Homo sapiens: one gene and its partners. The protein of the gene in region 1 purifies or fractionates together with the protein of each later gene. This does not show direct contact. Each region holds a gene or a part of one and is shown in the gene's direction. Other genes may lie near its edges. The genes, in order: NDUFAB1, ETFRF1 and LYRM2.

What was found.
Region 2: the proteins of NDUFAB1 (region 1) and ETFRF1 purify together in Homo sapiens (affinity purification with mass spectrometry; 4 studies listed by BioGRID and IntAct, with this or other methods). This does not show direct contact.
Region 3: the proteins of NDUFAB1 (region 1) and LYRM2 purify together in Homo sapiens (affinity purification with mass spectrometry; 5 studies listed by BioGRID and IntAct, with this or other methods). This does not show direct contact.

The regions. Positions count from the first base shown.
Region 1 is NC_000016.10:23,589,699-23,593,450, reverse strand, and holds part of NDUFAB1 (acyl carrier protein, mitochondrial precursor), read left to right. Parts: intron 1-2,300; coding exon of another isoform or gene 2,301-2,358; intron 2,359-3,752. UniProt on the Homo sapiens protein: Carrier of the growing fatty acid chain in fatty acid biosynthesis.
Region 2 is NC_000012.12:25,193,728-25,197,479, forward strand, and holds the start of ETFRF1 (electron transfer flavoprotein regulatory factor 1), read left to right. Parts: upstream 1-1,509; 5' UTR 1,510-1,610; exon of another isoform or gene 1,611-1,614; intron 1,615-1,626; exon of another isoform or gene 1,627-3,752. Other genes in the region: DNAI7 (dynein axonemal intermediate chain 7), read right to left, coding at 1,159-1,335. UniProt on the Homo sapiens protein: Acts as a regulator of the electron transfer flavoprotein by promoting the removal of flavin from the ETF holoenzyme (composed of ETFA and ETFB).
Region 3 is NC_000006.12:89,631,572-89,635,272, reverse strand, and holds the end of LYRM2 (LYR motif-containing protein 2), read left to right. Parts: 3' UTR 1-3,049; downstream 3,050-3,701. UniProt on the Homo sapiens protein: Involved in efficient integration of the N-module into mitochondrial respiratory chain complex I.

The DNA.
Region 1 (3,752 bases):
GATACAGAGATGGATACAAAAGGAAGACATTAGCTTACATCTTCATTGAACGCTTTGCAGCCCTTATGTCCAACTTGCTGGCTCCTTCTCTGCTGCTGTCTTCTTCCCTAGGCTGTTGTGACACTGTTCTCCCTTGGTTGGTTTGTCCTCCTACCTTGTTGGGACACTTTGCCTTTCAGGCTGGAGTGCAGTGGCATGATCGTGGCTCACTGCAGCCTTGACCTCCTGGACTCAAATGGTCCTCCTGCCTCAGCTTCCTGAGTAGCTGGGACTACAGGCATGAGCCACCACCCCTAATTTTTTGATGTCTGTCTTCTTTTTAGAGACGGAATCTCCTTATGTTGCCTAGGCTAGTTGTGAACTCTTGGGCTCAAGCAATCCTCCTGCCTCAGCCTCCCAAGTGCTGGGATTACAGGCATGAGCCATCACACCTGGTGTGCCTAACCCTTAAATGTTGGTGGGCTCCCGAGTTCTCTTACCACACATGCTCCCTGGACTCTTCACTCCTGGTTTCTGTTATTGCTGTATATCCCAGACCTCCGCCTCCAGTCCTTGTTCATCTCATTTGGACCATTGCTCATGCTACCTATTCCCTGCTGTGAAATTTCCTCTCCTCAAATCCATCCACTATGCCAACTTCAGAGCAACTAGTCACTCATTTACACCCTTTTTCCCAAAAGGAGCTAAGGCAGTTTTCCTGGGTATAAAAATACCAGATGATATAAAATAGAAGGTAAGGAAAAAACAAAAAAACAAAAACCAAGGGCAATGGCCTAAAATGCAGCCTGGAAGTCTTATACTTGATCCAGGTAGGCCCCGAATCTACACTGTCTAGCAGATGGAGCACAAAGATAATTTCCAGCAGTTCTATGGGGCATGGTACGCAGATGAAGACAGCACTTGTACAAAAAAAAGCTAGCTATTCCAGGACTGGGACCAGGACCAGACAAAGTCCCAGTCCCTTCCCATGGCCCTTAAGGCTCTGCAGACCTGGGCCCTCCCTCTTAGCCTCCAAGCCTGTCATCTGTGTACCATCTCCCAACATGAGCTGATGTCTTCTCACATAGACACAGGCACTGCACTTTCATGACTTTTTTTTTTTTTTTTTTTCCAGACAAGGTCTCTGTCACTTAGGCTGGAGTGCAGTGGCATGATCATATATCAGTGCAGCTTCAAACTCCTGGGCTCAAGCAATCCTTCTGCCTCAGTCCCTTGACTAGCTGGGATAACTGGCCTGCGCTACCACGCCTGACCTCATTTCGTTTTCTTGACCTGTTCTTCCCTCTCCTTGAATTATCAGTCTCAGCTCTTTTCCTCACCAAATCCAAGTCTGGCATCCTCCTTTCCGGCCACTCAAGGACTGAGTGACAACTTTTGTTATTGCATCAGCCTACAGATACTTCTGTCATGGTGCTTGCCATATTTTTATTTCAACTAAAATGATCTGTGGATTGGTCTTTTCCATTAGAGTGTAAGCTTCTTTTGGGGGAAGGTTGTGTCTTATTCATCTTTGCATTTCCAGCCCATTGCACAGTTCTTGGCACACAGGTAAAGTTCCCAGGCTTCTGAGACAGTCGTGTAAATAAAGGCAAGGCATTGTGAAACAGGTGTGTGTAGTGCAAAAGCAAAAAGAGATACTTGACCAATCTCTCAGTGAACGTGATCTTGAAGGCCTGTGCAGAGGCCAGGAAGAGCCTGGCACTTACCTCCTTGTGGTTGACTCTTAGGGTGTCTGGAAGGGAACATTGTTGGGGGGAAGAGAGTGAGCATATCATGAAGGGAGCTGTATGCTGCAGCGAGGAATTGTGGGTATTCTCTGCAAAGGTCATAGGGAGTGAACATGAAACAGGGCTTATTGAAGGAATAAGCCCCAGGTGGCGGAGAAGGAACAGAGGTCTGTAAGCAGGAGTTTTGGAGACAGGTCAGGAGTTCATTTCCAAACTGTTGAGTTTGAGAGGTCTGGGCTGCCTGTGTAGAGTGGACCAGTCGGCAGTTTGTAGAGACGGCCTTTAAAGCCCTCTCCTTAGCCTCCTCTGAGTTTGCCTCAGGCAGAAGTGAGCCCCAGTGGAGTACCGGGATTCTGATGGAACCTCATCTGTTTGAATTACTAGCCCAGAGGGTCATCACTCTTTACCTGCAAACAGTACCTTCTCTGATGTCTGGGAGAGGTGGTTTATTTCCCATATACTTGTTAAGTGTAGATCTTGGGGAAGAACAACTAACACCAGAAACATCACATGTTGGCTGTTGGGGAGGTGCTTGTCCATTTTGTATCCCTTTTATTTTTTCCCAATCAACAGAGATCCAGTTAGAAGGAGCAGCAAGACCTTCCAGGAGGCCATGCTGGAAGGACATGGGGTGAGGAGGATACCTAACCTTCCCTTGCCTCAGTTTCTCATCTGTAAAAAGGAGGGTGATAGTATCATGGATCTCACCAGAATACTGGAGAGCTGAAGAAAGATGATGTGTGTAAAGTGCAATATCATAGCCTGAGCTGATAAGAAATTAATGGAGGCCGGGACGTGGTGGCTTATGCATGTAATCCCAGCACTTTGAGAGGCTGAGGTGAGTGGATCACTTGAGACCAGGAGTTCAGGACCAGCCTGGCCAACATGGTAAAACCTCATCTCCACTAAAAATACAGAAATTAGCCAGGCATGGTGGTGCACGCCTGTAATCCCAGCTACTTGGGAGGCAGAGGCATAAGAATCACTTGAACCTGGGAGGCAGAAGTTGTGGTGAGCCAAGGTCACAACACTGCACTCCAGCCTGGGCAACACAGTGAGACTCTGTCTGAAAAAAAAAAAAAAAAGAGACCAGAGGCAGGAGCATGAGAGGGTAGTAGGATCAAGTATTTTGGGGCTACGCTACAGCCAAGGTATCAAACTAGCTGCTGCTGGTCATTGTTCTCAGGATCCTACTAAATAACCCTAAATAGCACTTACTGTGTTAAGTGCCAGCCAATGTCCAAGCCTTTACTTCATCTCACTGATGCTTCACAACAGTCCTGTGAGTGTGGTACTGTTGTTTATCCCCATTTTACAGATGAGGAAACTGAGATGTAGAAGGTTAAGTAACCCACCCAAGGCCAAACAACTAGTGAGAGCCAGCACCATGGTGCAGGCATAGGTGGTCTAGTTTCAGCGTCTGAGCTCTTGCCCACTAACTTACTGCCTCACGCTGATCCTGATGCAGCACCCACTCTAGATTGGCATGTGGCCTCCAGTCAGAGACTCGTTTAATTTAATCACATGGTGCCCACCTGGCCCTTGTAGGTACTTGCTGGAGCTGCTGAGGACAATGCTGACAACCTAGTTGGCCTCATGGGTAGTTGTGTACGAACATAGAATATACCCTCACCAGGGGTCTTGCTTTGTTGCCCAGGTTGGTCTGGAACTCCTGGGCTCAAGCGATCCTTCCACTTTGGCCTCCCAAAGTGTTGGGATTACAGGCGTGAGCCACCACACCTGGCATCGTACCATTTCTTTTTTTTTTTTTTTTTTTTTTTCTTTTTGGAGACAGAGTCTCACCCTGCCGCCCAGGCTGGAGTGTAGAGCCATGATCTCAGTTCACTGCAACCTCTGCCTCCTAGGTTCAAGTGATCCTCCCACTTCAGCCTCCTGATTAGCTGGGATTATAGGCACACGCCACGATGCCCGGCTAATTTTTGGACTTTCAGTAGAGATGGAGGTTTCACTGTGTTGGGCAGGCTGGTCTTAAACTCCTGACCTCAAGAGATCCGCCCACCTTGG
Region 2 (3,752 bases), on another chromosome or scaffold:
AAGTGCTTACTGTTCCCCCAATTTATTAGCAATTATAAATTGACTTAAGGTCCATTTGCATTCCGCCAGGAATGCTCTCCACTCCCTATTTCTTTTTTTCTCTTTTTTTTTTGAGACGGAGTCTCGCTCTGTCACCCAGGCTGGAGTGCAGTGGCACAATCTCGGCTCACTGCAACCTCCGCCTCCCAGGTTCAAGCGATTCTCTTGCTTCAGCCCCCTGAGTAGCTGGAATTACAGGTGCGCGCCAACACGCCCGGCTAATTTTTGTATTTTTAGTAGAGACTGGGTTTCACCATGTTGACCAGGCTGGTCTCGAACTCCTGACATCGTGATCTGCCCGCCTCGGCCTCCCAAAGTGCTGGGATTACAGGGGTGAGCCACCGCGCCAGGCCTCCACTCCCTATTTCTTCCCACCATATGTGGAAAACTCGTATTTATACTTTAAAACAGGTTGAAAAGCACCACTCTCCTTCCCTTGTTTCCCCTCACTGAAATTTCATCATTTCCAACTGTGTGTTACCCCATTTTAGATGCTTCAATTGTTACAGTTGTAAAGCTGTATTGTAATTAATTTGTTTAATCTGTATCCTATAAGCAGAGTTGTCGTCATGTTCTTCTTGGTATTCTTGGCTTCTAGCCCAGTGCCAAGTACAAAGAATGCACTCCACATTTTTCCCTTAATTAATGAATTAAATAAGTAATTACATTCTCCACTTCCTCTGGTTTTAATTATAGAAAATGTCTTGATGGAAACCACATTTAAGAAAATCAGAGATACTCTCATAGCTACATGTTGGCCTGTCTCCTTGCTGAAAACATGGCAGTTGAGGAGTGCAGAAAAACAAAATGAGAAGCCTTATCATATTTAACTAATGCAGGATGAGAACCTTGAATCACAAAACAATTCATATTCCCACAAAAGACGACATAAAATATTTTTTCAAAGCAGAGTAAATTGCATTAGCTTTTAATTAACTGCTGGAGAAGTACTAAAACATTTCCGCCAAGTTGCAATAAGAAAATTTAGTGGGAACGTCTATCACTACTGAAAGTTACTAGGTTGGGACCAATTTTCAAGCTTAGCAACATTCGAGATCAGGATACCGTGTGACAGCTTTGACCATCTCCCGTTTGCAGAAACTGGTTTGGGACTCCTACCTGTCCGCCTGGTCCAGGTAAGGAAAGCCATTGCTGAGAAGAGGGCCGACCCACCCCAAGGTATGAGTTATTTCCCAAACCGACCCGCTTCGCTGTAAAATATGACTGGCTCTTGATTACATTATTTAACACTGGTGAAGCAGAATCAGTGGTCGCCCCTCCACCTGTCTGCCTCATTTGCCTTGCTCACCATTAAGAGTCAAGCTCCACTGCAGTAGTCCGCAGAGTCGGAGCAGAAATTGTGTGGACAAACGCTCCCGGGTTGCCCGGACGACAGGCCCCGCCCACTTGAGCTCCAGGAAAAGAGCGCAGCCGCGCGGAGGCTCTTCCGGCCGGCGCCCCGCCCCCTTTACTGACAGGTTGCCCACCTCCCCCAACGCCACCCCGCTTCGCAGTAGACGGACAGAGGAGTCGTAGCGGTCGAGGCTTTTGCGGCTCCGGCGTGCCGGAAAGTGCGTGAGTGCCGCCGCCGGGGAGTTTTGTTCCATTTCCCGGATCCTGGGGTCTGGAGGCGAAATATGCTCTGGGCGAGGACCACCGGGTGTGGGAAGAGGGTTCTGAGCGTCTCCTGACGTTGACGGTTTATTTCCTAGAGTGTGTTGGGTCTTTCTGTGAGGGTTTCGAGAAGGAAACAGGCATGCGACTGGTTCATGCAGCGGACACCCGGTGGGAGGCCTGGGCCTCTGCGGTTTAATCCAGCAGGGGGATGGGGCTCATTCCGCAATTTAAAGAGAGAAATAAGTTGGCTCCAGAGGGTTGGTTATTTTAAGATTAATGACCTTCGGATTCTTCTTTCTGCTCTATTGTTTACTTTCTGTGCAGCGTACGCGTCCTTTTTCCTAAGAGCGCCCTAAACAAGAATTGAAAATGAAGCAATTCCTGGCTAAAATATTCCTTAACATGAAGATCGCTGAGGCCCCAAAGACTCATTAGTTTCCCGAGGTCACAGACTAATTTTACTAACCACACAACCTTTAGAATTTCAGTCTCCTCCCACATGAAGAAACGCCGGCACCTTACACCGACAGGAAAACTACAATTAAGTGAGGCTGTTCTCCTCAAGCCCGACTGAGTTCTCTGTAATTGTAGGGCATACCTACACCCTGTTTTAGCATTATGAGACCTGAAATACTTTTAAATTACTGGCACCATTTCTCATCTCTGAATTATAAGTTTATAATGCTCTATCCCTTCCAGTGTTATTGACTACATGCATTATTCATAGATAAGTAGTAGGACTAAGCTAGTCTTTGTGGGTTAAAGTGTTATTATCCCTATTGTAACCTGTAACTATTATAGGTTGTGTAATAGTTATTAGCATTTTACATCCATATCCTGGTAGCAAGATAAAAACATTTTAATAGCGACTTCGTACAGAGTTCTTACTCAGTTTACCATAGCTGTTTGATATGAAAGTTAAGGCTTCCTTTTAAATTAGTTTCAGTAAAACTAATGTTTAATGATAAAACACCTCAGTCAACTCAAGTTAGGATTCATCGGGGTAAGGAGATAGTTCAGTAATCCCAAGTTACCTTAAAATAGTGGGCTTTTAGAGGAAAGGCTTTACTGAAGCTCTCACTGTATCTACCCCATGGGGAACAATGATTAACAACTTTGGCCACCACATAACCCCCAGTAAAATGACAATTTTCCATTAGCCTGGAACTGGAACTGGTTAAGTCCTAACTCCTTAGCCTAGAATGACAGGGGGAAAAAACTATCAATGGGGACTGCAACCGCTGTCTCATCCAGCGCACACATCCAAGTTTTCAGAATAATAGGGGGCTTCTCTTAGTCCTTAACTCTTGGCTCTTTACTTAAAACAGTAACCTCCATGACTTCATGCAGAGTTCAGGAGCAGCCTCAGGGCCCTGCTGAACTCAAAATTGTTTATTCACTACATTGTGAACCCAAGGAGACCTATTTCTCTTAGTGGCTAAAGTAAACCTAAATGCTTCAAGGTCAACTGCATAAAGATAAACTGCATTGCCTGGTGTGGTGGCTCACGCCTGTAATCCCAGCATTTTGAGAGGCCAAAGTGGGTGGATCACGAGGTCTGGAGATGGAGACCATCCTGGATAACACAGTGAAACCCCGTCTCTACTAAAATAATACAAAAAATTAGCCGGGCGTGGTGATCAGCACCTGTAATCCCAGCTGCTCTGGAGGCTGAGACGGGAATCGCTTGAACCCGGGAGAGGGAGGTTGCAGTGAGCCAAGATCGCACCACTACACTCCAGCCGGGTCAACAGAGCAAGACTCCGTCTCAAAAAAAAAAAAAGATAAACTGCATTAATTCATATAAGTTAACATATCAAAGAAGAACAAATTTGCCATAGCCACACTAGTTACATTTTTGCTGGGCAAGTGTTTTATGATACATAATTTGTAAAAAGACCAACAACTAAAAAGGACAACTTAAGCCAGGTCCCTGAAAGCTTTCACAAGTTACAAATTGTGAATTAAATGAAGCTGTGCTGTTAGGCATTAAACAGGTTATAGTTTGCAATTCGAAATTACATCTATGTATATTTAATTTTAAATTATGTGAAAAGAACATGGTTCCGAAGAGGTGTTTTTTGTTTGTTTTGTTT
Region 3 (3,701 bases), on another chromosome or scaffold:
TGACATGATTGATAGATACATGCTATCTCTAGTAAATCTAAAATCTTGAAACTCAAAATCATCCTTTTATGGGTGTAGAAGTCAGTGATTTAATGATGCTCTTCCTAACAGTGGTGTGCATGGAAAGGTTTTCATTAAAGAGCGTATGTGGTTTGCATTTGCAAGATTCAACTAGCACAGACTCCAAGAAAACCTAAGTTTTTTTGTTTTTTAAAGCAGGTAAGGCCGGGCACTGTGGCTTACACAAGTAATCCACACACTTTGGGAGGCTGAGGTGGGTGGATCACTTTAGGTCAGGATTTCGAGACTAGCTAGGCCACTAGCTAGCCTAACCTGGTGGCACGTGCCTGTAATTCCAGCTACTCAGGAGGGCTGCCTCATATTGAACCCGGGAGGCAGAGGCTGCAGTGAGCCGAGAACACACTACTGCACTACAGCCTGGGCGAAAGAGTGAGACTCTTGTCTCAAAAAAAATAAAAAAGTGCCATCAAGTTAGAAGTTTTAAATTCATGGTACAAGCATTGCCATAGATGTGCCTGCAAGAAACACACAGATGACTTTTTTTTGAGACAGGGTCTCTGTTGCACAAGCTGGAGTGTGGTGGCGCGAACATGGCTCACTGCAACCTTGAGCTCCTGGGCTCAAGAGATCCACCTGCTTCAGATTTTCATTTAGCTGGGACCACAGGCATGTGCCACCATGACCGGCTAATTTTTTTTACTTTTCAGAGAGAGGAGGGGGAATCTCACTTTGTTGCCAGGCTAGTCTCAAACTCCTGGGCTCAAGCAATCCACCTGCCTCGGTGGCCAGAGTGCTAGGATTACAGGTGTGAGTTGTTTTTTTTTTTAAAGAGACAGTCTTACCTCATTCTGTCACCCAGAATGGAATGACTTTCTAAAATTGCAGAAAGCAGAACATATTCCTTGCTGTTTATAATATTATAGTCGTATCAAAGGGAAAGAGTATTTCTCCTTAAATAAAATTACAAATAAGAAATGTATGTTTTACTCTTACTCATAAAAGGTATTGTAGAATACAAAAGGTTTTTCAAACTGGTTTTGTCTTTGATTGGCTTTTATAATCCACACTTCAAAGAAGAAATGCATTTAACTTTTAATAACTTAGTCAAAAAGTATAATGTTGCCTTGCCTTGCATAACCTTTAACTATTGCAAATGATGTTTTGTCCTTCCCCTTTGTCCAGTATTTTCCAAATGGTCAACAGTTTAAACATTTAAGCTTGCACTGAGAAACCTTGCCACATTTCAGCAGTTTTGTTTTGCTTTTGGTGGAGAGCACCTGATCGCGACTTTACAGCCAATGTATTTACTCTAAATTACACTTTTATAGATACAAGGTAAAGTGTAGCTGGGTGAAGGCACTCAGGAGCCATAAAATGTGGTCAACCACAATAAATTAAAATGTAAGCTAAACAAAGTATTCACACTTGCATTTTTTTAATAAGGAATTTAAGATCCATAGTATCTTTAATGCTTGGAAGAGACACAAATTCAAGGTGATAAAAATATTAATTAGAAGACACATAACATGCCTCAAGTATATCAACACTTGACTCCACAAACAAGGCATAACCATGAAAACAACACTCCCTTTATTTTGGGCTCCCAAAATCAAAAGTTAGAACTAATTTATTTAATCACAGATATTTAGTATACTCAATAATGCACTAACAATTTCTTTAAAAAAACACTAATACTGTACAGTATTTCTGTGTTTTAGTTTTTCCCACAGCTGTTGAAAATTTCAGCCTTGATTTGAAACATGACCTGCATGACAGGCTATAAGTTGTCAATAGTTCTTTTTCTTTGGAAAAGTACAGTTGTGGCATTTACTCACTTTAGCAGATAGCTAAAAGGGAAAAATAAGGAAAAATATACACTGGACCTGCAGTTAAGTTTTTGACAATGCCAAGGATCAAAAACAGATGAAACAACATTTGCTGAAGATGAAAAGGTATTGCATTGGTCTTAATAGATGTTGCCATCTCTGGGTGAGGATGCTGACTGAGCCTGTTCTGTGTCTTCATCACCTCTATTTGTTTCTTCTTCTACGACAGACCTCCAAGAGACAAGATCCATGTAGTAAGCCACACTAGGTCCTTTTGACCCTTCTCATTCTTCTGTAGTCTCTTCCCTGTGACTTTTGACAAAAATACTCAGTTCACAATATTAGCTGCCTGCTTCTGATGGGTAGGAGGTAATCAAAATACTCCCACCAAAGCACTCTATGGTCTAGACTTGATACTTAAAATTTAGTTTTCAGCATTCCTCAACAAGGATACCTTGAGGTAATAGGAGATATTTTGGTAAGTGAAAATAATTCCTGCTTGGAACACAGCCTACTGAACTCAGGATTTAATTTCTTGAGTATTAGGCAGTTCTCAATAAATTGATGTATACTGAGGAATGATTCTAAAGAGGTTAGTGATATCCTGTTTGAGAATAGATTTAGAAAACTGAAGGTACTCTCCAGCTCTACAATTCTGTATTAGGAACAATAGGGAAATGAGAAAGTGCCTCTATATTGCAATCTAATGAGTCTCTGGGGGAAGACTGTCTACCTGCGTAGTAGTTGAGAACAAGACAAGCTCCCAAACACATGAAAATCAACTTGAAATAACATCAAATTCAGCCTGGGCAATATCATGAGACCTTATATCTACAAAAAATTAGCCAGGACTGGTGGCACACGCCTGTAGTCCCAAGCTACTTGCGAGGTTGAGGCAGGAGGATCACGAGCCTGAGAGGCCAAGGCTGCAGTGAGGTGTGATCATGCCACTGCACTCCAGTCTGGGTGACAGAGCAAGACCCTGTCTCAACAAAATAAAAAACATCAAATTCATTCCATATTCAGGTAACAGTGACATATATCTACTGAATTATTTTTCTTTTAGGAATGTCTATATCTATGGATTGTCACTATAAAAAAAAGAAAAAACCCTAAAACTGAGCTTGACAAAGGGAATAAAAGCATACTTTGTTTTTCTTGGTGTCCCCATGTTAATAAATCATTTCTTCTCTTTGGCTCAATGAGCAGCATTTTATTACAATTACGTTCAATAGTCACTAGGTTCCTGTGTCTATAGAAATAGAACTGAAGTTTCTGTGCATACATGGGATATTGAGGAGATGAATATAAATCCCATATTCCAAAGGACAAGAAGCTTGTCCAAAGTTTCAACATATCCATGCTACTTTTACAACTTTGTTCTGTGTTTATATTTCATTATGGAACAAAGTAAAGTCTTCTGGCCTCCATGAAGTTGGGGAACAGTGGGGCCTAAGTTGAGTTATCGAATATTTTGCCTTCACCGCAAAGCAGTAGAAAGCTTTTGAGGTTAATGACAGAATTCAAAATGAAATACTTTCAAAAAATAGCCTTATTCATTATAAAATGTAGAGCAAAAATCTCAAATTCAGAAAGGTATTCTGATATAATTGGGTTTGATTAGGAATAGGTTATAAATTTTCAGGTAATTGTTACATGAATTTTTTTCCATTAATCTGCTTTAAAATCACTATATAACTGATTTTTTGACTGAAAATACAGAAAATAACAAACAATTTGAATCTTTCTCATTTGATCTCATTGTTTCCAGAGCTGTTAGCCAATTATTCATTATTTAAATAAACTGACTTTTCAATAAATTTTATCATAAGATATATTGGATCTTGTGACATC